Regions from separate parts of the Homo sapiens genome. Here region 1 is linked to region 2. The links come from fine-mapping of genetic effects on gene expression. A gene starts in region 2. The other region holds a variant in brackets. All regions are shown on one strand. Distances are between the middles of the regions.

Region 1 (16,546 bases), 23 kb before region 2:
TGTAACTAATACTACAGATTGTGTAATTTGAACAATGAAAATGTATTTTTTCACAGCTGTGGAGTCTGGAAGTCCAAGATCAGGGTGCAGGTAGAGTTGGTTTCCTCAGAGGCTTCTTTCCTTGGCTTGCAGATGGCCATATCTTCTACCTCTGTCTTCACATGGTCTTTCCTCTGTGTGCACACATGTCTGTTTCCAAATTTCCTCTTCTTATAAGGACATCGTTCATATTAGATTAGGGCCCACCGTAATGACCACATTTTAACTTACTTACCTCTTTAAAGACCTTTTCTCCAAATATGGTTACATTCTGAGGTACTTCAGCAGATGAATTTTGCAGGCATACAACACAGCCCATAACACAGATTACAGTGAAGTCACAGCCTTTGGCATTGCATATCTCTGCTCTGGCCCATTACTTGTTGATTTTAAAGTTTAGACCTGATAGCAGTATTATTGCTTTAATTTTCAAGTTCTTGCTGCAAGTTGCACTGCTGACCCCAGCTATTGATGACAGCAGATAGCCACAAGGCATTTACAATTATTTTATCTTCTATTGTCCTTTTTGATTGGTACTCTTTATTCTTCTGTATATATATGCTATCTTTATAAGAAGTCTAATTCAGACCCCTGGCTCTAATGCCATTAATATGCCAGCTGTCATGTCTCTTCACTGAGCTTCAGTCTTGTGTAACCCAGTTGCCTACCTAACATCTCAAAATTTAGATGCCTAGCAGGCATCTTAAATTATGATAAAATGAGAATTTCTAACCCTTATACCCCTAAACTGATACCTCTCTTAGCTGTTCCCCTTCCTTGAGTAACTCAGTTTACTCAGTTCATATGAATATCTTAAGAACAGCTTTTGATTCCATTCTTTCCCTTGCATTCTACATTCAACCCATCAAAAGTATAGCTGTTGCTATGTATGAAATACAGTCTATCTGACCATCTCTGATACTACCAGCTTATTACAAACCACCAGTATGTATTGCCTCTACTTCTACTGTTCTTCCTGAATGTTTTTTCTGCTGCTCACTCGATATCTCCCATCTATTCTTCCCTCAGCTGGAGCAATCTTACAAAAATGTAAATCAGATCATGTCATGCCCCAATCTAAATATTTCAGTCATTTCCATCTCATGTAGAAAAAAATCGATATCCTTAACATTGCCTCTAAGACCAGATAATCTGGCTTTTGTCAAGCTCTCTAACTCGTCTACTACCACAACCCCCTTCCCTCATTCATTACATCTACACTGAACTTTTTTCTGTTTCTCAAACAAATACATTTGGTTTAGTTTAGATCTTTGCATTTGCTGTGCCATCTGCCCCACGGCTTCTTGTTCACTGCTTTATCTCCAGTACCTATAAGAGTTGCCAACACAAACTTGGCTTTCTTTTTGTTTATTTTTTTAAATTATTTTTTGTAGCAATAGGGTCTTGCTGTATTGCCCAGGCTGATCTAAAACTCCTGGCCTCAGGCAATCCTCCTGCCTCAGCCCCTGCAAAGGATTGGGATTATGGGTATAAGCCATCGTGTCTGGCCTTATAATAGGCTTTCAATGAATGAATGAATTTTAGTGATGATGAAACTTAAACTCAGTCACTTGCTAAAGATCACACTGCAGTTGTCATTTGCTGTCTCATCACCTGCTGCAGTCAATAGTGTACTAGTTCTACTGCCTGAATTCCTCTCAGCTGTTCTCACTGACATTGCTGATGCGCTCAAAATGAGTCACATACACCAGTGGAACAGAAGAGAAAGCCCAGAAATAAACCCATACATCTACAATGGACTAATTTTTTGACAAAGGTGCCAAGAACATACATTGGGGAAAAGACAGTCTCATCAATAAATGGTGCTAGGAAAACTGGACGTCCATATGCAGAAGAATGAAACTAGACCCCCTGTCTCTCAACATACATAAAAATTTAAAAAATGGATTAAAGACATATCTAGGACCTCAAACTATGAAACTACTACAAGAAAATATTGGGGGAAACTCTACAGGACACTGCTCTGGGCAAAAACTTCTTGAGTCATACCCCAAAAGCACAGGCAATCAAAGCAAAAATGGACAAATGGGATCACGTCGAGTTAAAAACCTTCTGCAAAGCAAAGGAAACTATCAACAAAATGAAGAGACAACCCACAGAATGGAAGAAAATATTTTCAAGCCACTCATATGACAAGGGATTAATAACCAGAATATGTAAGGAGCTCAAACAACTTTATAGTGAAAAAATCTAATATTTCAATTTAAAAAATGGACAAAATATCTGACTAGACCTTTCTCAAAAGAAGACATACTAATGGCAAACAGGTATATGAAAAGATGCTCCACTTTGGGAGGCCGAGGTGGGCGGATCACGAGGTCAGGAGATCGAGACCATCCCGGCTAACACGGTGAAACCCCATCTCTACTAAAAATACAAAAAATTAGCCGGGCGTGGTAGCGGGCGCCTGTAGTCCCAGTTACTCGGGAGGCTGAGGCAGGAGAATGGCGTGAACCCGGGAGGCGGAGCTTGCAGTGAGCCGAGATCGCGCCACTGCACTCCAGCCTGGGCGACAGAGCGAGACTCCGTCTCAAAAAAAAAAAAAAAAAAAAGAAAAGAAAAGATGCTCAACATCATCGATCATCAGCAAATGGAAACTATAATAAGATATCTTTTTACCCCAGTTAAAATGGCTTTTATCCGAAAGACAGGCAGTAACAAATCCTGGCGAGGATGTGGAGGAAAGGGAACACTTGTAACTTGGTGGGAATGTAAATTAGTACAACCACTATGGAGAAGAATTTGGAGGTTCTTCAACAAACTGAAGGTACAGTTACCATAAAATCCACTAATCCCACTGGTAGGTGTTTAGCCAAAGGAAATTAAATCAGTATATCAGAGATGTCTGCAATCCTGTGTTTATTGCAGCACTATTCATAATAGCCAAGATTTGGAAGCAACCTAGTGTCCATCAGCAGATGAATGGATAAGGAAAATAGTACTCCATTGTGTATATGTATTACACAACTCCGATCTCTATGGAACTTTTATGGTGTGCTACATTGTGTATATGCAAACCTATACAATGTATGCGTATACGCATACCCATACAATGTATGTGTATACATACACCCATACAATGTATGTGTATATGTATTACAGTGCTCAATTTTGTGTATATATATACATATACATACACATATACAGTGTACACATGTAAGTATATGCCCACATATACATATACATATGTCCACATATGTAATACATTGTATGTTCACATATATGTAATACATATGCAATGTATTTGTATGTATACATGCATGTATGCAATGTATTTGTATGTATACATGCATGTATGCAATGTATATGTATACATGCATGTATGCAATGTATATGTATACATGCATGTATGCAATGTATATGTATACATGCATGTATGCAATGTGTATGTATACATGCATGTATGCAATGTGTATGTATACATGCATGTATGCAATGTGTATGTATACATGCATGTATGCAATGTGTATGTATACATGCATGTATGCAATGTGTATGTATACATGCATGTATGCAATGTGTATGTATACATGCATGTATGCAATGTGTATGTATACATGCATGTATGCAATGTGTATGTATACATGCATGTATGCAATGTGTATGTATACATGCATGTATGCAATGTGTATGTATACATGCATGTATGCAATGTGTATGTATACATGCATGTATGCAATGTGTATGTATACATGCATGTATGCAATGTGTATGTATACGTGTATGTATACATGCATGTATGCAATGTGTATGTATACATGCATGTATGCAATGTGTATGTATACATGCATGTATGCAATGTGTATGTATACATGCATGTATGCAATGTGTATGTATACATGCATGTATGCAATGTGTATGTATACATGCATGTATGCAATGTGTATGTATACATGCATGTATGCAATGTGTATGTATACATGCATGTATGCAATGTGTATGTATACATGCATGTATGCAATGTATATATGTATGTATACATGCATGTATACATTGTATATGTATGTATACATACACGTATACGTGTATGTATACATTGTATATGTATGTATACATACACGTATACGTGTATGTATACATTGTATGTGTATGTATACATGCATGTATACGTGTATGTATACATTGTATGTGTATGTATACATGTATGTATACGTTGTATATGTGTGTATACATGTATGTATATGTATATGTATACAATGTACACGTATGTATAGAATGTACATATATGTAATACATATACAATTACATATATATGGACATACAATGGAGGTCATTATGTGTGACCTCCATGTTGCACTAAGCAACAAAGGTTGAGATTACAAAAGCTGCTTATAAATTAGAGCTTCTTCTTAAGAGAAAACACCCCTGGGAGCTGGCACAGTCAGACGAGGAGAGTCCTGCTTGTCACTTTGCATCTCAAGTTCCCAGCCTTTTGGCTGGCTGCCAGACATGACTTGACAATCATGTTCCCCAAGTGGCAGAGACCAGAGAGAGAGAACTTCTCACTTGGTTACAAAGCCAAGCTCTCAAGACATAAAACAAGATGAAATGAGAATCTTCATATGATTTTCCCCCTTATAACAAACTACCCCAAAAGACAAAAGGAAAGCAAAGATTAACTCTGGGGGGAAAAGATCAAATAGAAAACAAGACTACTCACAAACACCAAAGTCACTTTGCCCCCAAAACTAGTTCACATAAATATTTTCTCCTGCCAGTCTAAATTTAGAGAGGGAAAGAGGAAGAAAAGAGTCTTACCACTCTCACCTTGACCATTCTCCACAGGCAGAGATCCAGCAGACTGACAGTATTAAGAATTCTTACCTTTGCTGGCCTTTTGTCAGAGGGCCAGGATTTCAGGTGCAGCAGTTTCGAGCAAGCAGTGTTCCAGCCAGTGAAGGATGCCCCACGTTGGGCACCAAAATTTGTAGGGAATGTACGGATCACCTCCACCCATCTCTGACTGGGTCTAGGAATGATATTGATGCAAGATAGATTAAGAGGAGAAAAGGATACAAGTTTTATTACTTTTTACATGTACAGGGGGATCCTCACAAGAGAGTGAAGATCTGAAGAAATGGCCAAAACAGAAAGCTTTTATATTTTTTTAGATGAAGAACAATACGTCTATGAGGAAATGACAGGACAAAAGGATCTAGGCTAAGGGCAGTAATTCCAGGAAGGTCACTAGGAGATATACTGGGGAGGGGTAAACCTAGTAGAAGGTAAGGGTTATTAAGTTTATTTGTACAGGTCCATTGCAGCACCATTTCCAGTCTCTGGTAATAGGGTTACTGTCTTGTCCTAGTACAGGAAAACCATCTTCCTCTATGTGCTGAGACCAGCTCAGTCGTGGAGACCCTAACCCAGTGGTGCTGGAGGAATTAAAGACACACACACAAATACAGCATGTGGAGTGGGAAATCAGGGGATTCACAGCCTTCAGAGCTGAGAGCCCCAAGCAGAGTTTGACCCACATATTTATTGACAGCAAGCCAGTGATAAGCATTATTTCTATATATTATAGATTAACTAAAAGTATTCCTTACGGGAAACAAAGGGATGGGCCGAAACAAAGGGATGGGCTCTGGCTAGTTATCTGCAGCAGGAACATGTCCTTAAGGCACAGATTGCTCATGCCATTGTTTGTGGTTTAGGAACGCCTTTAAGCAGTTTTCCACCCTGGGTGGGCCAGGTGTTCCTTGCCCTCATTCCAGTAAATCCACGACCTTCAGTGTGGGTGTCATGGCCATCAAGAACATGTCACAGTGCTGCAGAGATTTTACTTATGGCCAGTTTTGGGGCCAGTTTATGGCCAGATTTGGGGGCCTGTTCCCAACATCTATGGAACTTTTTTTTTTCTCTTTTCAACAGAGTCTCACTCTGTTACTCAGGCTGGTGTACAGTGGTGTGATCTCAGCTCACTGCAACCTCCACCTCCCAGGCTCAAGCAATTCTCATGCCTCTGCCTCCTGAGTAGCTGAGATGATAGGCATGTGCTGCCACACCTGGCTAAATTTTTTTTTTTTTTTTTTTTGAGACAGAGTCTTACTCTGTCACCCAGGCTGGAGTGCAGTGGTGCAATCCTGGCTTACTGCAACCTCTACCTTCCAGGCTCAAGCAGTTCTCCAATTCTCCTGCCTCAGCCTCCCGAGTAGCTGGGATTACAGACATGCACCACCATGCCTGTATATTTTTTATAAAATATTAATTGTATTTTTATATACATTTATATGTATGTTTTAAATAAAATATTATATTGTATGTTTTATATATAAAAATATAAAAAATAATTTTTATATTTTTAGTAGAGATGGGGTTTCACCATGTTGGCCATGCTGGTCTTGAACTCCAGACCTCAAGTGATCCACCCACCTCGGCCTCCCAAAGGAATTCTTATATTTTTAGTAGAGATGGGGTTTTGCCATGTTGGCCAGGCTGGTCTTGACCTCCTGGTCTATATGGAAATTTTATGGTTTGCTACATGTGGAAAACAGCAGGTCAAATGGCTGTTACTGCAAATGCAGTTTTTGAAGTGCTTTCAGCTTGAAATAATCAATATGCCAATTTGGCATATTTTGGGGTGGCATATCCTTAACTCCTTCACATAACAACCTGGACCCACAGCAAGGTCATTTCTTGTTTTGGGCCCTACTCAAAGATGATCACTTCATTATTGTCTAGTGTATGGGCCAGAGTAGTATTCATAGGTGTGAAATGTTTGCTTCAACAACCCATGGAGGCATATAGCAGGCACCACCTTTTTCTTTGTGCTAGGGAATGCAAAATGCGGCAATTTGCCTTTACTTCAAGGGTATATCCCACCATGGTTTTAACCACTGTACCCTTAAATACTCTAATAAAGTATCATGTCCCCAAATCTTTCCTACCCCTGGAATGCATATCTCTTAATAAGACCTCCAGTGAACCAACAATGCAGCCCCATCAGCATGATACTCAATGAAGTGAATCCGTATAAGGTTTTCTGTATGTTCAAACAGTCTAGATTTCCTCAGATTATATTATGCCAGAGGCAGGTGAAATAACATAGCCCTGGAGGCAAGCCTATAAATAAATATTTGTGTCCACGCTATATGAGTGCAGATTTTTTTCTGATGGCTCTTTTATTATCAGAATAGAAAATAACACATTTTCAGTTCATTGGTTGCATCCTATGCACCCAAGACCGTATTAATCTGATCCAGCATGTTAACTTCTCTGGTGGAGAGGCTAAAATGAGAGCACATAACATATGCTTTACTATGAAGTTGTATTATCAGGATTAGGCTAGCCTCAGAATATGAATTTGGAATCTTGTTTCTTTTTTTTTTTTTTTTAGTTTTAATTTTAGGTTTGGGGGTACATGTGTACGTTTGTTACACCGATACACGTGTCACGGGGGTTTGTTGTACATATTATTACATCACTCAGGTATTAAGCCCAGGACCCAATAGTTATCTTTTCTGCTCCTCTCTCTCCCAGCCTCCCCCGTCAAGTATTCCCCAGTGTCTGTTGTTTCCTTCTTTGTGTTCATAAGTTCTTATCATTTAGCTTCCACTTATAAGTGAAAACACATGGTATTTGGTTTTCCGTTCCTGCGTTGGTTTGCAAAGGATGATAGCCTCCAGCTCCATCTATGTTCCCACAAAAGACA[C/T]GATCTCATTCTTTTTTTCTGGCGCAAAATATTCCATGGGGTATATGTGCCACATTTTATTTATCCAGTCTGTCACTAATGGGCATTTAGCTTGATTCTATGTCTTTGCTATTGTGAACAGTGCTGCAATGAACATTCACGTGCATGTGTCTTTATGGTAGAATGCTTTACATTCCTCTGGATATATACTCAGTAATGGGACTGCTGAGTTGAATGGTGGTTCTGCTTTTAGCTCTGTGAGGAACCGCCATACTGTTTACCACAATAGTTGAACTAATTCACACTCCCACCAACAGTGTATAAGGGTTACCTTTTCTCCACAACCTCACCAGCATCTGTTACTTTTTGATTTTTTTTCCTGAAAGTTTTAATTTTTCTAATTTTTATTTTACTTTCAGTTCTGGGATATATGTGCAGAATGTGCAGGTTTTTTACATAGGTATACATGTGCCATGGTGGTTTGCTGCTCCTATTAACCGATCATCTAGATTTTAAGCCCAGCATGCATTAGGTATTTGTCCTAATGCCCTCCCTCCCCTTACCCGCAACCACCCAACAGGCCCCAGTGTGTGATGTTCCCCTCCCTGTGTTCTCATTGTTCAACTTCCACTTATGATTGAGAACATGCAGTGTTTGGTTTTCTGTTCTTGTGCTAGTTTGCTGAGGATGATGGTTTCCAGCTTCATCCATGTTCCTGCAAAGAATATGAACTCATTCTTTCTTATGGCTGCATAGTATTCCATGGTGTATATGTGCCACATTTTCTGTTTCCAGTCTATCATTGATGGGCATTTGGGTTGATTTCAAGTCTTTGCTATTGTGAATAGTGCTGCAGTAAACATATGTGTGCATGTGTCTTTATAGTAGAATGATTTATAATCCTTTGGATATATACCCAGTAATGGGATTGCTGTGTCAAATGGTATTTCTGCTTCTAGATCCTTGAGGAATTGCCACACTGTTTTCCACAATGGTTGAACTAATTTATACTCCTACCAACAGTGTAAAAGCAATCACATTTCTCTACATCCTCTCCAGCATCTATTGTTTCCAGACTTTTTAATGATCACCATTCTAACTGGTGTGAGGTGGTATTGATTTTTTTGTGGTTTTGATTTTCATTTCTCTAATGACCAGTGATGATGAGCTTTTTTTCATGTTTGTTAGCCTCATAAATGTCTTCTTTTGAGATGTGTCTGTTTATATCCTTCACCCACATTTTGATGGGGTTATTTTTTTCTTAGAAATGTCTTTAGTTCCTTGTAGATTCTGGATATGAGGCCTTTTTCAGATGGATAGATTGCAGAAATTTTCTCCCATTCTTCAGGTTGCTTGTTCACTCTGATGATATTTTCTTTCGCTGAGCAGAAGCTCTTTAGTTTGATTAGATCCCATTTTTCAATTTTGCCTTTTGTTGCAATTTCTTTGGTGTTTTAATCATGAAGTCTTTGCCATGTCTATGTCCTGAATGGTACTGCCTAGGTTTTCTTCTAGGGTTTTTCTGGTTTTAGGTTTTACATTTAAGTCTTTAATCCATCTTGAGTTAATTTTTGTATACAGTGTAAGGAAGGGGTCCAGTTTCCGTTTTCTGCATATGGCTAGCCAGTTTTCCCAGCACCATTTATTAAATTGGGAATCCTTCCCCATTGCTTGTTTCTGGCAGGTTTGTCTAAGATCAGATGGTTGTAGATGTGTGATATTATTTCTGAAGCCTCTGTTCTATTCCATTGGTCTATATATCTGTTTTTGTACCAGTACCATGCTGTTTTGGTTATTGTAGCCTTGTAGAATAGTTTGAACTTGGGTAGCATGATGCCTCCAGCTTTTTTTTTTTTTTTTTTTGCTTAGGATTCTTGGCTATATGGGCTCTTTTTTCGTTCCATATGAAATTTAAGGTAGCTTTTTCTATTTCTGTGAAGAAAGTCAATGGTAGCTTGATGGGAATAGATTGAATCTATAAATTACTTTGGCAGCATGGCCATTTTTGTGATATTGATTCTTCGTATCCATGAGCATGGAATTTTTTTCCATTTGTTTGTGTCTTCTCTTATTTACTTGAGCAGTGGTTTGTAGTTCTCCTTGAAGAGGTCCTTCATGTCCCTTGTAAGTTGTATTCCCAGGTATTTTATTTTCTTTGTAGCAATTGTGAATGGGAGTTCACTCATGATTTGGCTCTCTCTGTTTGTCTATTATTGGTATATAGGAATGCTTGTGATTTTTGCACACAGATTTTGTATCCTGAGACTTTGCTGAAGTTGCTTATCAGCTTAGGAGTTTTTGGGCTAAGACTATGGGGTTTTCTAAGTATACAATCATGTCATCTGCAAACAGAGACAATTTGATTTCCTCTCTTCCTATTGAATACCCTTTATTTCTTTCTTTTGCCTAATTGCCCTGGCCAGAACTTACAATAATATCTTGAATAGGAGTTGTGATGAGGGCATCCTTGTCTTGTGCCAGTTTTCAAAGGGAATGCTTCCAGCTTTTGCCCTTTCAGTATGATATTGGCTATGGATTTGTCATAAATAGCTCTTATTATTTTGAGATATGTTCCATCAATGCCTAGTTTACTGAGTGTTTTTGAAGGTGTGTTGAATGTTATCGAAGGCCTTTTCTGCATTTATTGAGATAATCATGTGGTTTTCGTCACTGGTTCTGTTTATATGATGGATTTACGTTTATTGATTTGTGTATGTTGAACCAGCCTTGCATTCCAGGGATGAAGCTGACTTGATCATGGTGGATAAGCTTTTTGATGTGCTTCTGGATTCTGTTTGCCAGTATTTTATTGAGGATTTTTGCATCGATGTTCATCAGGACTGAAATTTTCTTTTTGTTGCATCTATGCCACGTTTTGGTATCAGGTTGATGCTGGCCTCATAAAATGAGTTAGGGAGGAGTTCCTCTTTTTCTATTGTTTGGAATGGTTTCAGAAGGAATGGTACCAGCTCCTCTTTGTACCTCTGGTAAAATTCAGCTGTGAATCCGTCTGGCCCTGGGCTTTTCTTGCTTGATAGGCTGTTAAATACTGCCTCAATTACAGAACTTTTTATTGATCTATTCAGGAATTCTACTTCTTCCTGGTTTAGTCTTGGGAGGGGATAAATTCCAGGAATTTATCCATTTCATCTAGATTTTCTAGTTTATTTATTGATTCTTTTCTCTTTTCTTGTTTATTAGTCTGGCTAGTGTTCAAGGGCAGGAAGCATCCAGCAGTGGAGAAAGGTGTGGCCTGGGAGGCTAGGCCAGTCTCTCTTTTCACATTTTCCTGCCTGTTTATATTCTATCAATGCTGGCAACTGATCAGATTGTGCCCACCCAGATTAAGGATGGGTGTGCCTTTCCCAACCCACTGAGTCATATGTTAATCTTATTTGGTAACACCCTCACAGACACACCCAGGATTAATACTTTGCATCCTTCAATCCAATCAAGTTGACACTCGGTATTAACGATAAGAAGACCACCCCTTGTCAACTTGAACCCATATACAACTCCTGAGATCATACATAATCTTCAAATAAAGACAATAGTAAGGTCATAGTTACCCCTAACATAACACAACTATTCTTCGTACAACCGGAAACGCACCAATCCCATACCCAAATACTATTATATAATGTTAACAATACTTAAATGCTGATATGAAGTCAATAAATCTTATGTCACAAGATAAAGGAGAAAGGAAATAAACTGAAGATGTTTTCTTAGTACAAGTGTATACATGCACAAACATGTTTTTAACAAAGAAGGAGGAAATACTCATGACGATTACAGTCCTCATTTCTATAGCTGATCACATGATCGTAACTGGTACTGATGACTTCCTTCTACCACTACCCATTCAGTATTCCTTTTGCCTTCAGCAAGCACCTCAGCAGGTCGCGTTTTTTTTCCTAGTGGAATGACCCAAGCCTTCATTCCTGAAGAGTCTGGGCTATCTGTGGTCCTGCCTGGATTGGGCTGTTGTAGTTTCCCATTGACCTGAATCACAGGGCATGGTAATACTAAGAGATGCCCTAATGGATCTCCTGTATTCTATGCATACTCTTCCTTCCCTTCATTGTGTGTTAGTAGACTGATTTCATCTTGATAGTCCAGGTCAATCATGCCAGCTAACACAGTAATTTTCTTCTTAGCCTGTTGACTTAAAGGTAGGAGGAGTCCAAAGTGTCCAGGTGGCAATCTTAACTTCCAGTTTAATGGAATTGTTGTGTCTCCTGGTGGCAGCATTCCTCCCTCTTGAACTAAGACCTCTAGGCCAGCAGAATGTAATGTCGTAGGAACAGGAAGCAAAAATTTTGCTAGTGGATCACTGGGGTGATGGATGGTGAGTGGTGCCACTTCCACTTCCACCCCTTGATTCCTGGACCAGTGAATCCTGGCTATAGGAGAAACAGTACCATATATTGGATGCTGACTCAGAGCATACACGGCCTTCTGGAGAACTTTGCCCAAAGCTTGCAAAGTCCTGTCACCTAGTAGGTGTTGTAATTGTGACTTCAAAAGACCATTTTACTATCAATCCAGCTGCTTCAGGATGATGGAGAACATGGTAAGACCAGTGAATTCCATGAGCATGAAACTACGCCACCACTTCTTTAGCCATAAAGTGAGTGCCTTGGTCAGAGGCAATGCTGTATGGAATACCATGATGGTGGATAAGGCATTCCATGAATCCACTGATGGTAGTCTTGGCAGAAGCATTGCATGCAGGATAGGCAAACCCATATCTGGAGAAAGTGTCTATTCTAGTGAGGACAAACCTCTGCTCTTTCCATGATGAAAGAGGTCCAATATAATTAACCTGCCACCAGGTAGCTGGCTGATCACCCCGAGGAATGGTGCCATATTGAGGGCTCAGTGTTGGTCTCTGCTGGTGGCAAATTGGGCACTCAGCAGTGGCCATAGCCAGAGCAGCCTTGGTAAGTGGAAGTCCATGTTGCTGAGCCCATACATAACCTCCTTCCCTGCCACCATGGCCACTTTGTTCATGGGCTTATTGGGCAATGACAGGAGTGGCTGGGGAAAGAGGCCAAGTGGTGTCCACAGAATGGGTTATCCTATCCACTTGATTATTAAAATCCTCCTCTTCCTCCTCTGCCGAGGTCACTCGTTGGTGAGCACTCACATGGGATACAAATGTCCTCACAGTTTTGACCACTCAGAGAGGTCTGTCCACGTACCTCTTTCCCAAATTTCTTTGTCACCAATTTTTCTGCCATGCTTCTTCGAAGTCCCTGACCATCCAGAGAAACCATTGCTACAGCCCATGAATCAGTATATAATTGCACATCTGGCCATTTCTCCTTCCATGTAAAGTGCACAACCAGGTGCACTGCTCAAAGTTCTGCCCACTGGGAAGACTCCTTTTCACTGCTGTCCTCCAGGGAAGTCCTAGAAAGGGACTGCAGTGCTACAGCTGTCCATTTTTGGGTGGTACCTGGATATCGTGCAGAACCATCTGTCAACAGGCCCTACGTAGTCTCCTCTTCCTCTGTCAACTGATCATAGGGAATTTCCCATGAGGCCGTCGGTGCAGGCTGCGGGAGAGGAGGCAGGGTGGCAGGAGTGGAGACCATGGGCATTTGAGCCACTTCCTCATGTAACTTACTTGTGCCTTCAGGACCTGCTCGAGCCAGTGTCCAGTAGTCCCCGAAATGTCTGATCATTTTCCCTTTCCCCAGTGCACAGTTACCCTGGTAAAAGGCTGGATTTGGAGATCTCCTTGGGGAAGGATGGGAGAAAGATTAACTGCATAAATTGTTGGTGATGTAGTGGGGTCCTTCCTCAAGGGGACTCAGCCTCCCCTTCATTCAAGGGGTTCTGGGTCTGTAAACTGGCTCAAGTCTGGAAATTGATTGAGGGGCTGTGATTCTCTGTTTTTATCATTCGAATTAGTCTTTTGTCCATTTGACCTAGAAGTTTTCTGCTTGTATAAATTAAGTAGAAATGCAGTAGGCTTCCTATCAATTTCACTTCTAGGAACACCATGATTAATTAGCCAATGCCAGAGGTCTACACAAGTCACACTATTCTGATTGCTGCTTTGCCTCTGCTGTCCATTACAATAGCTAGGCCCATCTTGACTTTGATGGTTGAGTGCTGCCACTTGGCCTCTGCCACTTTGGGATCCAATTATTCCCATTGTATATAAATTTTGTAGTTGAGTGACTGCAGTTCCCATGGTTAGATCTGACATACAGAGAAGAGCAATTACAGGGCTCTTCAAAGATGCAGGTGCTGCCCTCACAAATCTATTTCTCAAGACATTGGTCAAGGTTATATCTTCTGGATCCTCCCAGCTGGGATGAGTAGGTCTAAAGTGACTAATCCAGTCCACCATCCCAATATCCCTAAGCCTTCAGATCCTTTCCTCTACATTAAATCAAGGGAGATCAGGCATTTCCAGTTCACTCATAGTGGGCCATCTTTAAATCCATATTTCAGGTAACCAAAAAAAAAACTGATCATACCCTTTTTTAACTCCCCAAGCTGCAACATTAAATGCAGAGTACTAGTTAGAGGGCCCAGATCAATAAATACAGCCTGATTCAACACTATATTCCTTCCACCATTATCCCACACCATTAATATCCATTCCCATGCCTGTTATTTAGATTTCTGTTTATGTAAATTAGAAAACTCAAGCAGTTCTTTTCAAGTGTCACACACTTCCTCATGGGTCACACTCTCAGTCTCACCTCTAGGTACCTGCCAGTTTAGTCTACTTATAGGTCTAGAAGCAAACAGGGGCATTGGGAGTGGCTCTTGAGGAGAATAAACATTATCTTGCCTGGTGATTGCCTCAGGGGAGGCCATCACTATTGCCTCAGGCAGCACAGGGTTTATCTCCTCAGACAAAGGTGGAAATGCTGATTGCAGCATGGGTCAGGGAGGCGATGCTGCTGCTACTGGGGATAGGGTAGCTGTTTCTTCTGGCAAAAAAAGAAAGTCTCATCAGAGTTTACAAACTCAGTGTCCCCAGCTTCATCAGGGTCCTCCTTCACATCCCCATTCCAAGATGCAGGGTCTCATTCTTTTTCAATCAATGTCCTCACTTTAACAATAGACACCTGACAAGGCTGGGTATGCAACTTTTGTTCCAGGTCAGCCACTCACATGATAAGAGCTTGTCTCTGTTTTTCCATAATTTCAGCTCTTTCTCTACAGGAGATAAAACTGTCACTCAGGGCAATCTTAGCAGATTTGAGGCTCAGCATCTGCCTCTGAGGCCAGGAGATAAAATCCCTGAGTTCATCATTTTCTTTCATCACTTTGTCTGCTAGACTTAGGAGCAACCAACCAGTTTCATTATGTTCCCTTGTTCTCCACATATGGTCAAAGGTATTATGTATTGAGTCACTAAACTCCTTGCCTCTCACGAGCAATGAATCAGGGTGTCAAATGCACTTATTTTGCCTAACTCTCTAAACAGTTCATGCCAAGTACTATCAGTGTTCTCCATACTATCAGAAGTAGAGTCCTTAGCATTTTTGGGTCTAATCATATTAAGCAACCAACCACAGAAACCCCAAAACCAACAAAAGAACTCCATCCTTAATATTCTGTTCCTCTAGAATCACTCCTGGTACCAAAATCTGTATTAGTCAGGGGGACAGAACTAATGGAATACATACATACATACAGATAGATAGATAGATAGATAGGAGTTTATTAAGTATTAATGTTGTGGGAATCAGGAAACCAGAGAGACCAATGTGTGGAAGAGGAGGATTTTTTTAGGCGGCCACCAATTCAACAGATTCATATCCAAAGGCTAAACACCAAACAAAGACCGGGCTTGACTTTTATACATACATCTGAAAAGGGCACAAAACCTGTAAGGTGGGTAAGCAAGCTTACAGAAGGAGAACAAAGGCAGTTTATCAAACAGTGACAGGTTTTACAACTCAGGCATGTCTTGTGACCATTGCCATACTGCACAGCTGGAAAACAGGAGCTTACAAAATCCTTGCAGACTTGCAGAAATAGTTACAAAAGTAGTTGTAAGAGCAGATCAAAGGATAATTGTATAGGGAAAGAATTTCAAAGGGGGAACTGATAAAAAGCATTTGTTTTTCTTATCCTTGCTCGGGGTTGGGGGGGTGTTGGGAGAGTCTCTGGAGCACGTTCCTTTGGGCTCTGGCTTTTCAGATAGTTTTATCAAGGCCCTGCTAGGGCTCTGCCTATTGCTGGCCTTGGAGGTAGTCAGCCAAGTACAGGAAAAGTTGTTTTTCCTTTTACTTAATTTTCTTTTTACGTTTTCTGCTTCATTCCCCGCTTTGGTGCTTCCTATAAATGAAGTTTAATAGAAAGCATCATCATCAAATTTTAATTCTTCATGGGGAGTTAGTTCTTACTTGGCAAGGGCTGCTATTTGGTTAGAGCCATTAGCTGAGTAGTTTGGCTTGTTAGAAGAGCCTCTATTGCTGATTGGATGTTTTTGACAAGGAGGGGTAAGAGACAAGGGAGTATTAAGCAACCTCCTAATATGGCCAGAACTATTCCTACTAAGGTCCTGAATCCTCCGAGGGATGAAAACCAGCCCCCGAAGAGGGAGTCTGGAGACCATCCCCTCCACATCTGGACTGAAACATGGGCTAATTTTTGGATTTTTACAGTTATATCTTCAATGACTTTTCCATTGTCATCAATTTCTAGGCAACAATTAGATTGAACTTTCCACATACCCCTCCCTCCTGGGCTAGGAGGTGGTCTAAGGCCAATCTATTTTGATAAATAGCGTGTCTCATTTTTGTGGCTTGCTTGGCCAGCAGATTTAAGGCTCTTGCAGTGTCATTAGTAATGATTTCAAGCACTGCCTGCAAC
Region 2 (16,546 bases):
TCAGGACCTCCTGAGGCTGTGTCATGGCCACATCCTCAACCGTGGCAAGATAAACTTTCTAAATTAACTGAGACCTGTCTCAAATTTTTGGGGTTCAGAATCCATAAGTCTTTTTTTATTTCTTGATGATTAAAGTCACATGAACTAAAAGGCATTACAGTGTTTATTTTTTCTTCAAAAATATTTGATCCTAGTGCTTATCCTTCAAGTCAATTAATTAGAGCTCTTTTTTAAAATAGACATCACACACTACACCTATGTAACTACACAGACAAGCAGAAGCAGATCCAGTAGTTATCAGATTTTCTGTTCTGCAATCTCTTAATTGGACTGTTCACCTCTGAGTGGGCCCTTTGAGAGCATGGCTAGGAAAGCATGCAGTTTCTAGGGCCTAAAAAACAGGTATAGCTGGAAGACAAAATCAGATTTTGAGAGGGATTCATCTGCCTCCAATTCCTGGGGCTCCGTGAGGAAAACAGAGGTCTCTCCCAAAATGGAATCTGTGGCACCTTTTCTGTTTTGCCCAAGCAGCCCCAGGCCATCAGAAATTATTTTAGGGCCTCTCATGCATGCCTTAAGGGAGAAAAAGAATTCAGCTGTCTGAGAAAAAAAAAACCTTTTTCCAACAAAACAAGATCCAAGAAGAGAAAAACATAAAGGCGTTTTAAATATACCTATAACTTGGATATCCACTTTTAGTTAAGATAAGCACTCTTTAAGAAAGTCCTTTTAAATCCCTTATTATGCAACTTTAGCCATGCCAAGCAGCCAATATTTCTAGCTTTTGAACTTTATGAAAGGTAACTTCCCAGGTGCTCACAGAAAGGAAAATTCAAGGTAGTTCATGGAGGGGAAGAGAATCAACAAATGGTAAAGGTCACAGATATCGAACCAGAAAGAACTCATTCCCTAAGCCGGGATTGAACCTGGGCCACCATTGTAAAATGGCAGAGGCTAAAACAAAGCACTGCCACATGGTTAAAGGTCATCCTTCCAAGTACATAAAATATGATGGAGGCCTTCAGCAAAGTTTGCCACTGACCAGTTTTCCAGGCTGGCTTGAGTAGAAGGCCTATAGAGTCCTAGGCCCACATCCCAACCTAAGGTACCCCTCTTTCTTACAGAACCATATAGAGAAGCATGCAAAGCACACCAGATTGGCTACAGCTTAAGACCAACCTCATGAATCCTTTTTTATAATTAAAACTCTACAAACTTTACAGAGAATATAAACAGTGATCCTTATCATTCCCTTTACCAGTTTGCACAGGAGAGTGGGGCCAAAAGCTCAACTGGTAAAATAAAAAAACCACTCTTACCCTTTTGCCAGCATGTCAGGCCCCTTTTGCCAGCATGTCAGGCTTCTGTGTTCCCTCCCCACTGAGCTCAATCCCAAGACAACTAGTTTAAAGCTTGGGAAGTTAACTTTTCCCAGTTTGGAGGCTACATCTGAGGGGAGTGTCCTGCAGCATGGGGACACAACCTTCCATCTGTGAACAGAGGACAGAGGAGGAAAAAGGAAAAATACGGCATTTTTTCAAAGGAGACCCAGGACTCAGGATGCATTCAAAGAGGTACAGATGGAAGATGAATGGCTACTCATCTAGAAAGAGAGGAGCAAGGTGTCCCCAGTTCCCTTCTTTTCCTAGCGAATACCCATGGTACATGAGGTAGAGAAAGCAAAGCATGTCTCTTTCTTTACTCCATCCTTATATTTCTGAGTTCTGGCAATCACAACAGGTTGCCACCCATGGGTATCAAAGCAGCTTTCACCCATGTTAACAGAGGGGTCTAGGGGGTGGGATCATCCTCTCTTACCCACGTATGCCCTATCTCCCCTGCTGTCAGTAGCCTTTGAGTTCCTGAACTTGGAATTGAATTTGGGACAAAAATGTTTCTGGGGGGTTGGGTTGCATGAACTCCTTATAAGCAGAATGCTAAGGTGAAGCTGTGAATTTGAGTCTTCCTCCAACAAGGGATAGAAAAGGGTGTCTTGTGAATTGGGGTCCCAACCTAGTAAAACGTCTTCTAAAAGGAAAAAAAATGCCTCTCACATAAAAGTTAACTTCTGACCTGGTGGAGAAAGGAAAAAAAAAAAACCTAAATACAACGCTGTGTTAATTGCTGAAAAATGGAGAAAAGAAAAAGATGCCTGGGGAAGAAACCTCTTATTCTTATGCAAATGAGTTTCTTCAACTGGGAGAGAAACTTTTAATTGCTATTTCTTCCCTGGGGTTTGGACTGAGCTGGACCCCTTGGCCAGGGGAGGGGAAGACGCCAGGGGTATGTGGTGGGGAACGCTGGCCAGCTGTTTGTGCAGGGCATGGGACCCTGAGGTGCCTTGGGGCCTGGGTAGTGGCTGTGGTTCATTTTTGCCCTGCGTGGCTGTTGGCCTGTGTGTGTGTGTTTGGCACGCACATGCAGCAGACACAGCCATGTGCCCCAGCCAAAAGGGAAGAGGGGCGGGGAGCAACTGCTCACCTGTCAATCCTGTACGTGTACCTGAGGCCACTGGGGTGGGGGTGAAACATCCCCAATATTGTAAAAGAAATGATAGATGCCATTACAGTTCCCCCAAAAAGAAGGAAAATGCCATAGAAAAGACTGGCTTGGACCAGGGCCAAAGTTCCTGACCCCCAAGAGTGATGGGTGTTGGGGGGCGGGGGAGCAGTTTCCTCTACCCTCAGACTTAGTGTGAGGACAAAAAGGCTCAGAAATGAAAGGGAAGGAGATTTTTGGGTCCGCACTTTACTCACCCCTCCTCATGTCCCTCTACAGGCTACCAAATGATGCAGGATTTTTTGCTCCTTAGTTCAGCTAAAATCCAGGTTTCTGTCTCACAACCAGGAAAAATTAGGCACGTGGACAAATTGAAGGATGAGGAGGGTAGATCTATTAGGCAAAAAGAAAGCTCAGCAAAGAAAGAAGTGGTCCTGCCAACATGCTACCACCTCACAGATTGAAGACCAGACCACTTCACACAAGCTGAAGAGGCCGGGCCCCTCCCCCAGCATAAGGTGTGAATTCCTGGTGGCTCCACCCCATTCTCCCAGTGAACATACAGGCCCCCAGTTCATTGTGAGCATGCCCAGGCAAGACCCTGGGCAGGTTCCCTTATCTGCCTCCTGCATCTGTCAGCTCTATCTTCCCTAATAGATGGATCGAAGTCTCAACATTGTCATCTTCTCAGAATTCTCCTTTTTCTCCTTCCTAACACAAAATGTAGTATGCCATATATACTTCTCTTAATCTTGTTTTTTAAGCTTACTGACCCTGGAAATCACTGAATATTAATGTAAAGAGATAATCCTTTTTCATTTATGACTGCATATTATTCATGATGTAGAAGCATTGCTGTTTACCTAATAGCTTTCTAATGATGGAATTAGAATTGTGCACAAACCTTTGGTAGTACACATTATCCCACAATAAACAGTTTTGTACAGATCTGATTTGATCTCTTTGGAATATAACCATTTATATTAACACCTCCCAAAAATGACATACTTAGGTATAAATCTAACAAAAGGTTTGGTATTAACTATTTCTCTATGTTCAAGTTTGCTGATAATTTTCTCTATTCTCTGTCCTGCTGTTGAGCCCATCCAGTGAGTTTGGATTTGGTTATTGTAGTTTCCAGTTCTAAAATTTCTATTACTTTCATCTTTATATTTTATATTTCTTTCCTGAGACTTTCTCATTTTTTTGTTCCAAGTCTCTATTTTTTTCATTTTAGTCAGATTTGTAATTGCTCATTGAAGCAGTTCATGATGTCTGTCTCAAAATCCTTATCAGATAATACTAACATCTGCATCATCTCAGAGTCAGCATCTGTTGTCTTTTTGTCATTCAAGTTAAGATTTTCCTGGTTTTATAAATAACTAGTGATTTTTCATTGTATTCTGTTTTTTGTATTGTTTTGAGATGGAGTCTTGCTCTGTCGCCCAGGCTGGAGTGCAGTGGCATGATCTCGGCTCACTGCAACCTCCACCTCCAGGATTCAAGTGATTCTCCTGCCTCAGCCTCCCTATTAGCTAAGATTACAGGCGCACACCACCATGCTTGGCTAATTTTGTATTTTTTGTTTTTTTTAGTAGAGACATGGTTTCACCATATTGGCCAGGCTGGTCTCAAACTCCTGACCTCATGATCCGCCCACCTTGGACTTCCAACGTGCTGGGATTACAGGCGTGAGCCACTGCGCCTGGCCTCCACTGTATTCTGAACACTTTGGGTGTTATGTTGTGAGGCCCTAGATCTTATTAAATTTTTTCTTTTATCAGGATCCTTATGATGTTGCACCAGTAGGGTAAGAATGGCATTACTTTGCTGTTGCTAAACGCTGGCATCTTTCCAGGTTCTCCACTTAATTTCTGTTGATATGCCAGGGGTAAAGGGCAGCTCACATCTGCTGTTCAAATGGAAAAGTTCATCCTCCTCTCTAGGCCTCTGTTGACGCCATCTTAGCTGGGAAGTTGAAAGATGCCTCATTACAGCTGTCCAAGTGACCTCCACTGACATTGTGAAATAGGAGCCAGTGTTTGTTTTGTGTTGCTATGAAGCAACCTGAGACTGGGTAATTTATAAAGAAAAGTGGTTTATTTGGCTCATGGTTCTGCAGGCTGTACAAGAAGCCTAGTGCTTGTATCTGCTCCTGGCGAGGTTCTCAGGAGGCTTACAATCATGACTGAAGGCAAAGGGCAAAGGGGAGCCAGTGTGTCACATGGTGAGAGAGGAAAAAAGTGAGAGAGGGAGGAGGTGCCAGGCTCTTTTAAACAACCAGATCTCACATGAACTCATAGAGGAATAACTCATTCATTACCATGAGGACACCACCAATGTATTCATGAAGGACTCACCCCCATGCTCCAAACGTGTCCCACTAGGCCCCACCTCTAACACTGGGGATTATATTTTAACATCAGACTTGGAGGGTAAAAACATCCAAACTATATCATTTTTTCCCAGGACCCCAAATTTCATGTTTTTTTTTTCACATTGCAAAACACAATTATCCCTTTTCAGTAGTCCCCTAAAGTCTGAATTCATTTTAGCATCAATTCAATTAAAAGTCCAAAGTCCAAAGTCTCATCTGATACTCAAGGCAGGTTTCTTCCACCTATGTGCCTGTAGGATTAAATGGTGGCACAGGCATTTGTCAAACATTTTCATTCCAAAAGGGATAAATTGGCCAAAAGAAAATGGGGCAACAGGCCCCATGCAAGTCTGAAGCCCAGCAGGGCAGACATTAAACCTTAAAGCTTTAAAATAATCCTTGACTCCATGTCCTGTATTCAGCCCACACTAGTGCAAGGGGTGGGCTCCCCAAGGCCTTGGGCAGCTCTGCCCCTGCGGCTTTGCAGGGTGCAGCGCCTGTGGCTGCCCTCACAGATTGGTATTGAGTGCCTGCAGTGTTTTTAGGCTAAGGGTACAAGCTGCTGGTGGCTCTATCATTCAGGGGTCTGAAGGGTGGTGGCCCTGTTCCTAGAGCTTGGCTAGGCAACCAGCTCTCATGTGAACTCATAGAGTAAGAACTCACTCATTCCTGCAAGGACAGCACCAAGCCATATATGAGGGATCCAGCCAAACACCTTCTATCACACCTCACTTGTAACATTGGGGATCATGTTTTAACATTAGATTTTGAGGGAACAAACATTCAAACTATATCAGGGCCTCATTTACTGCATGACAAGGAGGAAAGTCTCAGAACTCAACTTGACCTTCTCTGACACCACCCCAGTGAGTGGGGTGGGGGAGGGGATGCCACGTTACAGCTGGGAAGATTTGAAAGTTTAAGCTCCCCATGTGGCTTTTGCTGATGAAGTGCATGTGGGGATACAAGTTTTCCCATGACATTTGGGTGGAGAAGGATGGTTATTTTCTAAAAGTTTTCTGTCTCGCCAGACTGCTCATTTCTGAGTCCTTTGGCTACAGACAGCAAACTTCTTGAGTCTTTTTGTTCTATGTCTGTTGGCATTAAAATGTTATAGGCTTCTCCAGATTGCTTGAGGTTAAAAGAAAACTCAGGGATTCACCACCATGTTATTCCTTAGATCCCAGGGTAGGTACCTTCTCTGCATGATTTTCTCTACCTTTCTTAACCTTCTTATGTTTGTTTTCTATTTAAAATACAGTGTTTTTACTTGCACAGTAAGTCCTCACATCAGCAATAGGTTCTCAGAAACTGTGACTTTAACAGTGCAAAGTAACATACAACAAAACAAATTTTTATTTGTCTCATCAGTGTTATAATGAAACACATTGGACAAAACAATGTTATTTCAGGACCTACTGTACATTGTTTCACCTAAAGTTGCAGTTTCCAAGAACCTATTCATGACATTGAGGACTTACTATACTTACTAGGAATAATAGGAAGAAATGTGTCTACTCTATCTTTTCTGGAACCAGAAGTTCTTAGTGCTGATTCCACAAAGAAATAAATGTTGTCCGGGTGCCTGTAATCCTAGCAATTTGGGAGGCCAGATCACTTGAGCCCAGGAGTTTGAGACCAGCCTGACCAACATGGACAAACCCTATCTCTATAAAAGATACAAACAAACAAACAAACAAAAAACAGCTGCACTCCAGCCCGGGTGACAGAGTGAGACCCTGTCAAAAAAAAAAAAGAAAAAGAAAAAGAAGAAGAAGAAATAAATTTACTCCTTCTTACAGCTAGAGAGATCAAGCCAAGCTCCTTTGGGAAGGTTTCATTCTTTTCCCACCTATGGATCTTGCAGGTTACTATTTGTTCTGCCTGAAGCAGGCATTCTATTCTTCCTCAATTATCTTTCTCCCTGCGTAGAGTTTCTTCGCTCTGCTTACTAGTGCTACTGGCTTGCTACTAAGCTTTTTCCATGATTGAATGTATGTGGTTTCCTCTACTCTAATTTTTTGGGGCTATGTATACCTCATTGTAAATGATGTCTGGTATAGAAGTAGATGTTATCCACTGAGTCCAGCGGAAGACAAACCTCTTTGTATCTACCCCTCCTAAGGCAGAGGTGTCTCCAGTTTTGCATGTATGAGCAAAACAGTTTATCAAAAGGAACCTTGTCAGATTTCTAAAGAAACCAGCATAAATAGTAGAATCTTTTCCTGGCAGGAAATGGAAGGGGTCTGTAATTAAAACTGCTTCTAATTGATGGTTATCCCATGAGGCTCTGATTCTACCAGGTAAATTAGGAGTTGACAAAAATCTATAACAGAAATTCCCAAAGTTAGAGTTAATATTTTATTAAATTAGTCTTTATCCTATGTAGTTTTTATAAATTGAACTCATCTTATTGATTATATATTTTACCAAACACTATACCATAAATTCTCCACCAATCATTTTGAGCATACTTTTCTCCAAAACATTATAGTCTAATAGGAGATGCAATTTTTAAAACTCACGTATGAAACAGAAAATAGCAAGGATATAAATTTTGTCACACAAAAATGTATTGCATATTAAAGTTATAAAGAGAGTTACAGGATGTTAATGTTTTCTGGATTATTTAGGAAAGATTTGATAATGGAAGTGGAATTTGATCTTGCCCTATAAAGTTACTATAATTCAGTTCAATGGGAAAAGTGATTAGACAGTCTAGACCAATGCAATGACACCAGCAAAATTACAAACCTGTGCTGTCAGGGGACATAGACTGGAGGTGAGGAGACAACCCAATTCCAATTGTATTAAATTCGGAAGTGAGTATAGAAATGGCAGGATGAGAGCAAGATATTCTTCAGAGCCTATTATTATTTCTGTAGAATTGAAAGTTCCTTGTTGCTAAGTAGCTAAATCTAGAATTTAGTCACCTGAGAGACAAAAGGGAGAGGGCTTATGTTTCCCTTTGTTCTGTGGCCTCAGCTACAAACCATTGATAAAGCATGGTATAAACCATCTAGACAGAAATGGCCATGGAAACTACTGTTTCTTCTGATGGTAAGTCATTCATAAAGTTTGGTTCTATGCATAATTTGGTATCCAGAGTAGTCCACTGGATAATGTGAAGTCTCTTAATTTTTGTTTTGTTTTCATTTTTTTTGTTTGTTTGTTTGTTTTGAGATGGAGTCTCACTCTGTCGCCCAGGCTGGAGTGCAGTGGCGCGATCTCAGCTGACTGCAAGCTCTGCCTCCTGGGTTCACACCATTCTCCTCCCTCAGCCTCCTGAGTAGCTGGGACTGCAGGTGCCCGCCACCACGCCTGGCTGATTTTTTTGTATTTTTAGTAGAAACGGGGTTTCACCATGTTAGCCAGGATGGTCTCGATCTCCTGACCTCGTGATCCGCCCTCCTCGGCCTCCCAAAGTGCTGGTATTACAGGCGTGAGCCACCGCGCCCGGCGTGTTTTCATTTTTAAAGATATGAGTGACTTGAGCATGGATGTAGGTAGGGTGACCAACCATTCCAGTTTGGTTGAGACTGAGGGGATTGCTGGGTGCAGCACTTTCAGTTTTAAAACCAGGACAGTCCTGGGAAAATCAGGATGAGGTAGTCACCTCAATTGCCAGTAAGGAATAGATAAAGTAGTAGAAGATGAAGATGCAGTTGAGAATAGGGAAAATTAATAGAAACAGTCCTCAAGTAGGTGGGAGAGATGATCTGGAACCATGAGGGGCTAATGAGACTAGAGAGGTAGTAAGGTAGAGAAGAGGTGGATATAGGCAGATTCAGATGGTGAAAGGCCCAGAAACCATTTTATCTTTGAATTTGGCGTGTGTGTGTGTGTGTGTGTGTATCATATTCCAGAGAAAGAAATCCACTTTATATTATGACATTGTGGCTTTACACACACTTACACCCCACATATTTGGCACTGTGTGTGCAAGGTTGCTAAGGATCTTCTAGGGATGCCTTCTGATATTTCTGTTCTATTTCCTCAAGGAAAAAGACTGCAGGCTATAGCCAGCTGAATTACTTCCATGACTCTAATGGGACAGATATTAGTGACAGACAGATAGGAAAACAGTGCATTAGGGCATTGGAATAAGAGGGAAGATGGGTAGAGAGCGGTCTTGATGAATTTGAAATAGCTGTGGGGAAAGGAAGAGTTTATCAAACATGCAGAAGAGGGCTGTTGGCTCACCTGATAGTCCGCTGACATTAGAGGACATGGATTTACGGTGGTACCACTTCACAGTATCCATGGTAGAATGATGGTACTTCAGGAGCTTTGGTCTCTGTAAGTCCTAGGAATGAAGACAATGAGTCTGGTTTTAAAGATTTTTTTAAAGTTATTCTCCTGTTATTGCCTGCTCTCATGCTGAGCTCCAAGAAAAAGAATAATATGACACAGGTTGGTGTAGCTTATCAGTCCTTTCCACAACATTATATCTTTGATTAGTTCTTCCCATTTTCAATCCTCCCATCCACAACAACTGTCACTCCATAGTAAGTAGAAAACATATCAAGAGAGATATAGAGAGCAAATCTGGCAGTTAGAATTTCATCCCAATTCAGAGATCTTTGTTCTTGGAAGTTTTGCCTATGAACTTTGCTTTTCTCTTCCATGCTACTTGCACCTTGTGGAATAAGGTGCCTAACTTGCAGCAGTGAAAACTGCCCAGATGAATCCAGCCTCTTTAAGCAAGTTAATGGCAAGGATAATGTTCAGCTTGAAACAAGTTTTCCCCATCTTCCAGCATCCACATAGCCAGTCTAGGACAAGAAAAGGAAAAAAACCTTAAATACTTTATATTAGAAAGGAAAGGTACTTGGTTAACTAATTCTACTGTGATTGAGAGACAATGAGAATGGATTTTCAGCTGCTGGCACTATACATAAATGAGGAAAACTCAGAAGATTGAGGAGGTGCAAATGCAATATCCAGGAGAATAAAGAAAAGAGCAATATGGCATAGGAAGTTTTGAAATATCTACTGGATTTTATATCTCTATTCCTTAGGCTGGGGATCCAGGACAAGCCATTTCAGTTTTGATTTCTATATTCTCTTTTTAAGCCTTTCACAAACACATTGGTTTTGGGATTTTTTTTTTTTCAGAGCAGCATTAGTAGCTTTGATGTAGGAGTGGAGGAAGTATGTGAAGAATTAATGCAGTTCCTGCCCACCCCCCATTCCCCGACAATCTCTGTCACATTTAGGACTCTCTAGAGTCAAAGATTTTGGCATACAGTGCTTGAAGGGATGAAACTGGTAGCAGAGCTGAATGGATTGGAAGACAAGAACATTAAGAGAAATGGGGGATGATGAAAGAAAAGTATTTGGGTTTTCTTTGGGTTTGAGAAACAGGTATAGCAGAAGTAAGGGGGAGAGCTGGGAGAACTAAAATTGTTGGTAAATTGATTAGGATATATGAAATTTTTTGTGTGTTGACAAGGTATACATTATGACTATGAGTGGGTGGGCTGAATTACACTGAAGATGAATTGAAGAGGTTAAAAAAAACTTTAAAAAACCCTGTCTTGTTTTCAGATGGGTTTTCTATATACTTGCTAATATTACTTTAAGTTGAGGGTAGGAATTTTGGTGGAGAATAATTTTATCAGTCAGAGGCCAGAGCCTTTGAATTTTGTCCAAGTGTGATAAGGGTGGTTGAAGAGACATCTAAAAATAGTGTAGTCAGATATTGCAGGATAAATGATTTGGTGTTCATGTTGTGGGCTGTGGAGAACAGGAACTCTGGTCCTTGTGGTGCATGTGACTTCTGAGGATGGAGTTTCTCAAGAGGAAGCCTTTAGGCAAGCAGTAAATTCTATTAAAGCTCAGGTTCAATACGGTAAGTAGATGTAGGGAGCTTTCTGTGAAGAGGTACAGGATGGAGTTGGTTCTCTCTCTCTCTCCTTTTGTCTTTAAAGGAAGACTCCAGAAAGCACAAGGGAAGGTATAAGAAGAGAATATAAGGAAACTTGAATCAGGGCAAAGAAAGCATTGATTAGAAATGGATTCAAAATCCAGGAGATGATTGGTGTTGGGTCAGGCATGTTCATTTTTATATCTTCTGTGTAAGTCCTCTTAGATTAGCTTGATTTAAGTGCTTTTCCTTTTTGTTCTTATAAGAAATAGCACCTACCTTCATCAATATGTTGATCACAGTCAGAGGTGAAATTAAGTTTTTGGGCCTGATGCACGTACAAGATGAGGGGCCCACTTTAAGAAAAATAATACCAAGTTACAATTGCAGAAAATAAGTATGAAAATGAGGATTTATTTAGCATAAGAAAGAAGCTGCAACAAATTATAAATATTAAAAGGTTGAAAACACCATAAACATCACAAAATTTAATCCCCTCAGTATTACATTAATCAACTTCCTAACTCACTTTTATGATACCTTTTCCCTATAGTTTTTAAATTGCTTATTTAATTACCTCCCTTAAGAGAATTATTTTGTTATAATTTCTACGGCAAGAACTGAAAGGCATTTGCCTTTCCCTAGTATGTTTAATAAAAATTCATTTTGTATTATTAATAGTTTAGAAAAGAAAATTCAGCTTCACAGCTTGTTATTGGTAATGAGATAAATAATTAAATTTACTATTGTCAAATTTTAGAAAACCTCTATTAAGTCTTTTATGTATGCGATGTAATATTTCAGGGTGTTTGAGATTTTTCTTGTATAGTGACTAATTTTGATTACTCATAATTATATGACTTTCATAAAGTCCATTGCTGAGCCCCTTACAGGGTCTTTATAGAGGTCTGTACAGTGAGGATCCCTGAAGCATAAACTTTGTCTGGTTTTGATCATATTATATTATAATTATCTGTTTTTTGTTTGTTTCTACACATGCTCAGTGCTTACTAGCCTCACTTTTGACAGTCATTTGAGACTATGATGAAATATATGGATACTCTCCTCAGCAAAAAAAGTCATGAAATACATAAAATATTGAATACAATATTACTGACCTCCTAAAGCTTATTCTTGCTCCTGCCACAGTTTCTGCACTAAATTGATAATTTATTTAATGCTCTGTATTTTGATTTTCTTTCTCTAATATCTAGCACAATGTCCTGCACTTTGTATGCTCCAAACACATAAAGACTTGTTTAATAAATAGAAAAAGAAATGGATAAGTGTTGCCAGCCAGACTGTATGACAGGTGCAGAAATTCCCCACTTTCAAAAACTGTTGGTAAATATATTTGAGCAAACACTCAGACTCTTCCCTGGCGATCCTAAAATACTAGACTCTACAATGGTTTTTGCCCTAATAAGAAAAGAGTTCCTTTTCGGAAGACCTTTAAACTGCATAGATTCTCATTTTCTCTTCTGAAAGCATTTCGTTTTGTCTTTGGGACTCTCCTGTAGCTAACTGGAGAGAACAACATTATTCTCTCCATACCCTTAAATGATGTCAGTGTTTCATGAATTTTCTTTTCTAAAAATTATACTACAATATGAACACATTTTAGTAGCATTCACTTATAATCCAAGACATTTTGCAATCCCTCCTCCGTTTTTCCATTTTTCATTGTACATAGAGCTATATGAGGCATTACAGAGGATACTAAAATGAACGAAAATCATAAACCCTGCAGTCAAGAATCTTTCAGTCTAATGAAGTTATGAGTAAAGATGAATACAATGAGGAATAGTAAATAACTTTGAGATAAAGAAACTAAAGTATATCATAAGACTGATGCAACTTGACACAGAATTGTGATTATTTTTGATGTCTCCAGTTTTGATAGTCAAAGGAGACACTATCAATAGATATTGCAAGGGCAACAGGCATAAACTAATATTATCTTGGACAATTTGATATATAGAGTCACCCTACTCTTAAGTTTCTTTACTTTTGCTTTTACTTTTTATTATGGACATTCCATACTGCCTGTAAAGACTGAGATAACTATTTAAGTACCCATCTTCCAACTTCAACTATTATCACCACGTGGCCAATGTTGTCTCCTCTATACCCCCTAAATCCCCACCCTCATTTACTAAAAGCAAATCCAAAGCATTTTCTTGATTCATCAACCAGTTTTTCACTACTTCATTCTTTTTCTCTCCTGATTCCTTACTTATCACCTTTCCAACCCATCTTTTTATTTTTACTTCCAGCACTGCAGTTCTGATCTAACTCTGCCAGGACACAGATCCACAGGGTCAGCCCTGCATCCTGAGCAGCTTAGAGGGAGAAGCCAGACCAGCAGTGCCTCACACCTTGTCCTCTTCTGCTCTGGACAGATGGCTCCATAACGACAGCTTCATAATGGCAGTGGATGGGACCCTCGTGTACATCAGAGTCACTCTTCTGCTGCTCTGGCTTGGGGTATTTTTGTCTATTTCCGGCTACTGTCAGGCTGGGCCCTCCCAGCATTTCACTTCCCCGGAAGTGGTGATCCCCTTGAAGGTGATCAGCAGGGGCAGAAGTGCAAAGGCTCCTGGATGGCTCTCCTATAGTCTGCGGTTTGGGGGCCAGAAACACGTTGTTCATATGAGGGTCAAGAAGCTCTTAGTTTCTAGACACCTCCCAGTGTTCACCTACACAGATGACCGTGCACTCCTGGAGGATCAGCTCTTCATCCCAGATGACTGTTACTATCATGGTTACGTGGAGGCAGCCCCTGAGTCTCTGGTTGTGTTCAGTGCTTGTTTTGGGGGCTTTCGAGGAGTATTAAAAATAAGTGGCCTCACTTATGAAATTGAACCCATCAGGCACTCTGCCACATTTGAACACCTGGTTTATAAGATAAACAGTAATGAGACACAATTCCCAGCTATGAGATGTGGCTTAACAGAGAAGGAAGTAGCACGCCAACAGTTGGAATTTGAAGAGGCTGAGAACTCAGCTCTGGAACCAAAATCTGCTGGTGACTGGTGGACTCATGCATGGTTTCTGGAGCTAGTTGTTGTGGTGAACCATGATTTCTTCATTTACTCTCAAAGCAACATCTCAAAGGTGCAAGAGGATGTATTTCTTGTTGTCAACATAGTGGATTCCATGTATAAGCAGTTAGGTACTTACATAATTTTGATTGGAATTGAAATTTGGAATCAAGGAAATGTTTTCCCAATGACAAGCATAGAACAGGTCCTGAACGATTTCTCTCAATGGAAACAAATCAGTCTTTCCCAGCTACAGCATGATGCTGCACATATGTTCATAAAAAATTCACTTATAAGTATACTTGGCCTAGCCTATGTTGCAGGAATATGTCGTCCACCTATTGATTGTGGAGTTGATAATTTTCAAGGAGATACCTGGTCTCTTTTTGCCAACACTGTGGCCCATGAGTTAGGTCATACGTTAGGTATGCAGCATGATGAAGAATTCTGTTTTTGTGGGGAAAGAGGTTGCATCATGAATACTTTTAGAGTGCCAGCAGAGAAATTCACCAATTGCAGTTACGCTGATTTTATGAAGACCACCTTAAACCAGGGATCATGTCTGCATAATCCTCCAAGATTGGGGGAAATCTTTATGCTAAAGCGCTGTGGGAATGGTGTGGTTGAAAGAGAAGAGCAGTGTGACTGTGGATCCGTACAGCAGTGTGAACAAGACGCCTGTTGTCTGTTGAACTGCACTCTAAGGCCTGGGGCTGCCTGTGCTTTTGGGCTTTGTTGCAAAGACTGCAAGTTCATGCCATCAGGGGAACTCTGTAGACAAGAGGTCAATGAATGTGACCTTCCAGAATGGTGCAATGGAACATCTCATCAGTGTCCAGAAGATAGATATGTGCAGGACGGGATCCCCTGTAGTGACAGTGCCTACTGCTATCAAAAGAGGTGTAATAACCATGACCAGCATTGCAGGGAGATTTTTGGTAAAGATGCAAAAAGTGCATCTCAGAATTGCTATAAAGAAATCAATTCTCAGGGAAACCGTTTTGGTCACTGTGGTATAAATGGCACAACATACCTAAAATGTCATATCTCTGATGTCTTTTGTGGGAGAGTTCAATGTGAGAATGTGAGAGACATTCCTCTTCTCCAAGATCATTTTACTTTGCAGCACACTCATATCAATGGTGTCACCTGCTGGGGTATTGACTATCATTTAAGGATGAACATATCTGACATTGGTGAAGTGAAAGATGGTACTGTGTGTGGCCCAGGAAAGATCTGCATCCATAAGAAGTGTGTCAGTCTGTCTGTCTTGTCACATGTCTGCCTTCCTGAGACCTGCAATATGAAGGGGATCTGCAATAACAAACATCACTGCCACTGTGGCTATGGGTGGTCCCCACCCTACTGCCAGCACAGAGGCTATGGGGGCAGTATTGACAGTGGCCCAGCATCTGCAAAGAGAGGAGTTTTTTTGCCGCTGATTGTGATTCCTTCTTTGTCTGTTTTGACTTTCCTGTTTACTGTCGGGCTTCTTATGTATCTACGACAATGTTCTGGTCCCAAAGAAACTAAGGCTCATTCATCAGGTTAAGAAAATGTCTCTAACTTAATATTCCATGCATTAGTACACTTTAGTCTCTTGGCAGTAGAAACATTAGTACATCCCTGAAACTGAGCACATTTCTGACCATTTCCAGAAAGCTGCAAAGATCTTCCCTTACATTAGTACCACAAACATTGTCATTAAGTTCAAGTTATTCTTAACATGTTTCTATCTATTGTTTATTGTTTTAAGCAGCAAATAAAGCTACATCCTTCCCTCCCTTTAGTCCTTGTTGTGTTTCTTGTGCATAGAGATGACTTATGGGAAATGTATGAGATGTTTCTGCCTCAGAGTGTCCAGGGGTGAGGCTTACCTCTCTACTGACATTTATCAATGTGGGAAAATTACTTAAATTTTCTGATGTTCTGCTTCAAAATCTGAAAAGGGGTAGGGTTCATAATAATATTTGTCCCACCCAACTTCTTGGTTTTATTTGGTAACCAAAAGAGAGAAATAAGTGAATTTTTGTTAAGTATAAACAGATTGTTATCTGATGAAATCTCCTGATCTTGCTCCCTGTGTGCTTCCTAGCTCTTTGTCTTAATTTGGCAGTTTGGATATCCTTTTGGAGCATTTGCTTGCTTCACATACCAAAATATAATCTCCATGAGGGTGGGGTTGTTTTCATCTGTTTTGCTCATCATTGTATCCTTGATAGCCGGAACAGTGCACAGTGCTTACTACACAATAAATACTTAAATGAAATCATGAATCTGAATGGAGTATTAAATAAATGAAATTATGAAAAGTAAAAATAATATTTTGATACCTTGGGATGTCATTCTGATCCTCTTTTTTAAACTACTGGAGCTCTTGCTCAAAATTAAACTTTGAATATTTAAAATGCTGCTGTTTGTACCTGGTGCAGTTTGCTGGTCTTTTCTTCCCCCAGTGTATCTTCTCCGTCTATTCTCAGTGTTTTTGGAAAGCCTGTCTCTTGAAAACACAGAGTGAGTCAGATACCCTTTGTATTGATCAGTTAACTTCTGAATGGCACTCTGTAAATTGAGTCAAAATACCTTTTGCATATCATTTTTCATTATGCTTTGCCAACTTTGCATCTTCTATCTATTTCATGTTTAGAATATATTTGGCTGTGTCATTCTCTGCATATTTGTACATGAAATCCCCATTCCCAAAATGCTGTTTACCACCCTGCCCCTACTCCCTTGCCCTGGAAAACTCCTATTTTC

What was found. PIP is the estimated chance that this variant, and not a neighbour inherited with it, causes the effect.
Region 1: its variant is fine-mapped to the expression of ADAM21 in fibroblasts (GTEx, PIP above 0.99).

The regions. Positions count from the first base shown.
Region 1 is chr14:70,421,062-70,437,607 of GRCh38, forward strand. All of the region lies in intron 1 of LOC124903339 (a long non-coding RNA gene), which reads left to right. Among named protein-coding and RNA genes, the nearest start is that of SYNJ2BP-COX16, 12 kb to the left of the region's middle. RefSeq lists a silencer at 4,398-4,598. The variant C/T (reference allele first, on the strand shown) is at 7,715.
Region 2 is chr14:70,444,328-70,460,873 of GRCh38, forward strand. It overlaps ADAM21 (ADAM metallopeptidase domain 21), which reads left to right and starts at 7,847. Exons shown (of 2, transcript NM_003813.4): 1 at 7,847-7,936; 2 at 13,022-15,578. The coding sequence starts at 13,173. The coding sequence ends at 15,341. It overlaps LOC124903339 (a long non-coding RNA gene), which reads left to right. Exons shown (of 2, transcript XR_007064237.1): 2 at 1-154.